Linked DNA regions of Homo sapiens: region 1 is linked to region 2. The links come from fine-mapping of genetic effects on gene expression. A gene starts in region 2. The other region holds a variant in brackets. All regions are shown on one strand. Distances are from middle to middle.

What was found. PIP is the estimated chance that this variant, and not a neighbour inherited with it, causes the effect.
Region 1: its variant is fine-mapped to the expression of SOCS2-AS1 in whole blood (TOPMed, PIP 0.90).

What each region holds. Positions count from the first base shown.
Region 1 is chr12:93,740,652-93,743,452 of GRCh38, reverse strand. The region is part of intron 2 of CRADD (CARD and death domain containing adaptor protein); the gene reads right to left. Among named protein-coding and RNA genes, the nearest start is that of CRADD-AS1, 4.2 kb to the right of the region's middle. RefSeq lists silencers at 846-935, 966-1,135 and enhancers at 222-1,178, 1,179-2,135. The variant C/G (reference allele first, on the strand shown) is at 1,220.
Region 2 is chr12:93,569,955-93,572,755 of GRCh38, reverse strand. SOCS2-AS1 (SOCS2 antisense RNA 1) reads left to right here and starts at 1,358. Exons shown (of 4, transcript NR_038263.1): 1 at 1,358-1,491. SOCS2 (suppressor of cytokine signaling 2) reads right to left here and starts at 81. Exons shown (of 2, transcript NM_001270471.2): 1 at 1-81. RefSeq lists silencers at 635-944, 955-1,004, 1,365-1,644, 2,015-2,204, 2,265-2,314.

The DNA.
Region 1 (2,801 bases), 170 kb before region 2:
GGCTGAAGTGGGAGGATCGCTTAAGCCTAGGAGGTGGTGGTTGCAGTGAACTGAGTTGGACCCACTGCACTCCGGCCTGGATGACAGAGCAAGACCCTGTCTCAAACAAACAAACAAAAAGAAATAGCATCCTAGTAATTACGGCTCTCCAGCAATGGTATAGACTGCTTCGAAAAGCAGAAATGTTATAAAAAGATCCCTAGAATCCCATAGAAAAATTGGCCTAAAAAACCTCTATATTGTAACTCCAAAATTCTGATTCCATTAACTTAGTAACACAGGGAATACTGGCATTATCGGAGTACTAGTTAAGTTACTATTACTCTATACGCCACATTAATTCATTAAATTTAATATTAGGTATGCAGGACAATTGTCATAGCAACATAAATTATTAGCATTACAAGTTCCTAAACAGAAATATGCATAATACTAAAACGAAACTATTTTAAAGGGCAGACATTTATTTTTAATTCTGCAGGATTTCTTTTCAAAAGTGAACTTTGGTGTAGCCTCTGGTCTGGGGCGGAAGATGAGAATGGGAGGGCAGCCTGACCCCCCTCCTGATAAGGAAGGACCCAGCGCATAACCTGTTCAGGATCTGGAGCCGCACAAACACCTGACTCGCCCCTTCAAAACAAGATCCGCGGAATGGCTCGGGACACAACAAGAAATTGCCGGCAACCTGTGACGGCTCATTTTTACCGACAGTGGGAGGCGGGCAGTCGGAAGGAATGCCCATTTCTCCGGTGTTCCTTCCCAGAAGCAAAAGAACGTGTTTGTTTATGCAAGATTTACGTTTCACTCAGGTTTGGGTTGGGTTTGTTTCCTGGAGATGGAGCTGAGTTTCCCTGGTTTTGCTGGAGTGAGGACAAGCTGATCGCTCCGTATTTACCTTTCACTTGAGCCAAATTGGACAAATGCAAATAAACAGGTCTTGCAGGCGCCCCCCGGCAGTCGGCGCCGCCTCCCCGCGCTGGGCTGGGCAGCCGGGGCCCGCAGAGGCAGCCGGCGCCCTAGGGCGGCTGGGGCCGCGCGCCTCCCTGCCCCGCTGCGCGGCCCGCGGGTGCCCGGCCAAGCGCTGGCTTATCTGCAGCTCCCACAGCGCCCCCGCACTCACCAGTTCCTAGAGCAGGGATTCCGAGAAAAAAGAAAGAGCCGGGTTCCCTAGAAACATTAAATTAACACAAGGGATCTGGAAACAAAACAGCAGATGCCT[C/G]AAAGCCTTCTCCTTGACGGCTTCCTGCCTTCTTGGAAAATCTTTGCATTAAAATAGATTGAATTACCCTGCTCTGCCAGATGCTGCTCGGGAACTTCATTTTGGGCTAACATGAAAGGAGAGTTTGACATCTTTTAAAGGATTTTTCTTTTCGAGGTGGTTTGAGGGGCGCCTTTGGGTTGCTGACATTAGCAAGGACCCAAGGCTGAGCTTTTTGCATTACAGTCGAGAACTTTCCATAACAATGGCTAGCAAATCAGATAACAAAGATCATGGCGTGTAGAGGAGACGCGGTGGAGCATAGAATGAGCACTAAGGGTTCAGAAGCCGAGGTTGCTGTCTCTGGGAAGAGCCTAGAAAGAGCACAGGCCAGCCGCCTCCTTTTACAGGGGAGAAAATGTCTTTTATTTCTAAGCCTACTTATTTTGACCATAGCTATGAGAACTATCTAATGGCATTTCCAGAGAGTCACAAACAAGCAGAAAGGCTTGTGAGTAGTATTTTATCAGCCTCTTTGTTCTAAAGCCCATCGTCTAACCTCCACCGACCCCTATCTACAAATTAATCAGACCATATAATTTGTAAATTCAAACCCAGATTAATAACCACACACCTTGAACAGTGGGTCTTCAGCACAGAGTGTATTCCACTTTCCTGTCATGTTAACTTTCATATTTAAAGAATTTTGGTAGCTGAGAACAAGATCCAAAGCTTCCTATGAGGTATCAGGATTTTACAGAGTAAATTGTTTTTACTGGAGTAGGATCTTCTTTGACATTTTAACTTTTTTTCATGATAACCTTTAGGAAAGGACGCTATAATCCTTAGTCGCTAATTTATATGTGTCATGCTTTCTAGTAAACTGGAAAATAACCTACATTCTTAAAAGGATTCTATGCTTATCCCAAATTTAGGAGCACAAGATGGGGGAGAAGTATATTACAACAAGATACTCTAAACACAAATAAAATTAAATATCCTTGCCTAAGCATGAAAGCAATAAAACTCATCTTAAAGCAATGCAGTCAGACAAAATCATTGCATCTGTAATAAGGGTAAGTACACAACTCCGGGAGTTAGCAGCCCTAAATATTTCTGTTCTAATGACACACAAGAGATACACAAAATCTATCATTCCTCCCTGATGTACGAAAAAATAAAGGGCAATTTCATAACACCTTTGGTGCTTTCTAACTTAATAGCTGGCCTTCAGGAAAAGCAAGTATAATTTTTGAGTGTTTATAAGAAAGCAAAGGAAAATGTTGCAAAAAATTACTTGGCTCAAAGGCCACAGAGAAAGCCGGAATCTGCAGGACTCACCAAGCTACACAGCTGTTTTAAAACCGAAAGTCAAACAGCTTTTAAAAGGTATTAAGTATTTTCTACAACAAAATCATCAAATATACATACTTCTTTTTATCCTGCAAATAGACATTTTATTTCTATTAGAAAAAAACTATAGTTACACAAACAATAACTAGACTGCTGTAATAAATATAACTAGCCACATAATACTAGTCAACGCTGGCTTTTTAAAAGATTACCAGAGAATTTCAAAATGATTCTGAATGATCAAGTGTGA
Region 2 (2,801 bases):
GGGCTCTTTCTCCCCAGATCCTGGAGGACGGATGACAAAGTCCCTCGCAGCCGCGGTCACCCACTGATCGCCTACAAAGAGAAAGCGGGAGGTTGGGTCAGTCCAAACTGGACCCCTGCGGCTGGGGTGGGGGTGGGGAAATAGACGTGGAAAATCCCAGGGACTCCTCCGCCTCTACGTTCCTGCACCATTTAACCCCAAGCTTCCAGTTAGCGCCCTGGCCCAGCTCTAGAGAAAAGATAAAGAGAGCAGAGATCCAAGATAAAGTTGGCTGAAGAGGTGGGGGGCGGAGGTCAGGAGGAGGGTGAACAGGGTGTCTTCCCGCCCAGGGTCACTAGCTGAAATCAAAGACTGGCGACCTAGGAAGAGCAAATAGTCACCTGCAGATCCAGTGGGAATAGGCCCTTGTCAAGGACAAGTAGAAAAAATTAAAAAGGAAAGAACAGGAGAGATTCCCCAAATTGGCATTCCGGTCTCACACCTGGCGCAGCCCGAGGGCCCCCAGGAAGAAGCACCCACACAAACTTGGTTCTCCGCCCTAAAGCGCTGCGGGGCCCCGAGGCACCAACCCGGGGTGCGGAGGTGCGGGAGCTGCCGCATCTCCGCCCGGGAGGCTCCTCGCTCCCCTCCCCCCGCTTCCTGGTGCCCGCTCTGGCGGGGTTGGGGGTGCCGCGGCGGTCGCTCCCGGACCAGGATGGCTGCGGTGGTTCTCGCCGCCGCGGGCGCTGTCGAGGAATCGGCCCGAGCGCGCAGCCCTCGCGGGGCTCCGAGGCGAGGCCGGGGCCGAGCGGGCGGTCGCGAGCGCTGCGGAAAATGCAAACCACCAACGCCGCGCTCTTACCTCGACCTCGGCCGCGGCCGCCGCCGCCGCCTCCGCACCAGGCAGCCTCCTCAGCGGACATGGGGCGGGGGGGTGGGGGGAAAAGGGGAGGTGGGAGGGGCCCGGGAGAGGAGGGGCGTCTGCCCTTGTTTCCCCCGTTAACGTTTAATTTGGGAACGAGATGCCCGGGGATGCAACCAGCCCCGCGCTCGGAGGCGGCGGTCGGAGTTCCGTGCGCAGAGGGCACACAAAAGCCTCGAGGATCATTGCCTCGACCCCATCCCCCACCGCGCGGCGACGCCCCCTACGGGCTGGGACACCTCCACTCTCGGACTGCTGCCGGGTTTCCCTCCGGCTGCGACCCTGGAGGTGGGAAGGAGAGAGGGAGGGAGGGAGGAAGGAGCGAGGGCGGGAGGCAGGCCGGTGGGGAGGAGCGGGAGATCAGGTTATTAGGAGGATTATTAATTTGAATGGCAGTTTAGGGGAAATAAAAAAAAGAAACTCCAGACACTTCCAGACGCCGAGAAGGGGCTGGAGAAAGCAGGCAGCAACGCTAGGCCGCGGGGCAGAGCCGCGGTTCGGACTCTCTCTTCCCCGGCGCTCCGAGCTGCGGAAGCCCAGGCCGTCCGCCGCTCCCCGGCGCACGCGGCCGCGCCTCGCCGCCCTCCCCGGTAACTCTCCTCGGGGCGGAGCCTTCGGGCTTCCCCCACTACCGGTACCTGCCGCGGGCGCCCGAGCTGCGGGCACGGGGTATCCTGAGGCTGTGCACCCGGGACCCCGGCGCGCACTGTCCGCGGGCCACGCGGTGAGGGTGGCTGCGGGCGAGAGGGCTCATGCTTCAGGGGAAGCCCAAGGCCCGCCAGCCGCGGCGGCTGCGACGAGACTTGGCAAGAGTTAAACGTCGGTCCCAGGAGCAGCGAGTGCGCGCGACTTCCCAGACCGACGCGCCTCCCTTGCTCCCCGCCTCCCTCCCCAGTCAGCGCTCCGCTCGCGCCCCGCCCGGCTGCTGCGGAGGCGGCTTTCCAGGAACTTTCCAGGAATCGGCCTCACGTGACCGCGGGCCCCGCTACTGCTTTAAAGAGGCTCGGTCGCAATACACAGGCTTCAGGGAAGACCGGGTGAGAGCGCTCGGGTGCAGGGCGGGCGGTGTGCACGCCGGGGTCGGCCTGCCTCTGGCCCCACACCCCGGGGTGCTCGGGCGCAAGCTAGAGATCTCCCCGGCCACCGGCTACAGCCAACCCCGTTTCGGCGGCCGGAGCCTGCCCCCTACCCGGGCCAGCTGAGCGCCCGGGTTCAGGGAAGGATAGCGATCCTTGGCCCTTGGCCTGCCACGGGGGTGGGTTCCTCTAAACATCCCGGCGGCGCCCCCTCGATGCGACCCTCCTGGCCGCACTTTTGCGGGGGGTGGGCGTGCAGGAGCGACTGTGGGTCCTCGGAAACCAGACTCTCCGGCTCTAAGACACATCGATGGCGTGGGGACGCCGTGCTCGTCCCGGTGCCCACGGCCGGGGACCGGAGGCGGTCCCCTTGATCAGGTCCTGGAAGGCAGCGAGCGGGAGAGCAGCGCCTCCTTAAGCGGCGCCGGCCGTCCTTAGTCCCCTCCCCCTGGCGCTCCGGCTCCTTGTCACCCGCACCCACCCGGCTCCTCCCTTCCTCCTCCCCTCTGCTCCAACGTCTCCGGTAGACCCGGCGGCCCGCCCGGGTCACCTGCGCCGGCTGCTAAGGGGGCGCCCTTACCTGCGCGCCCGGAAGGGGCTTGGTGACTGGCCTCGGTTCCCTCAGTCCGGAGAGTGTCTCTGCCATTCCCTGCAGGGCTGACGCCCCAGGGCTGGGATTCGGAAGGATCTCGGCACCTCTACCCTACCTGGGATTCTCACCTCCAACCCCGTTGGAGGCCCCCTGGCCTTAGTGGAAACTCATCTCCTTGTCTGCGCACCCGCCCCCGAAATATGACCTACTTGAAATGTGACCTACTTTTTAA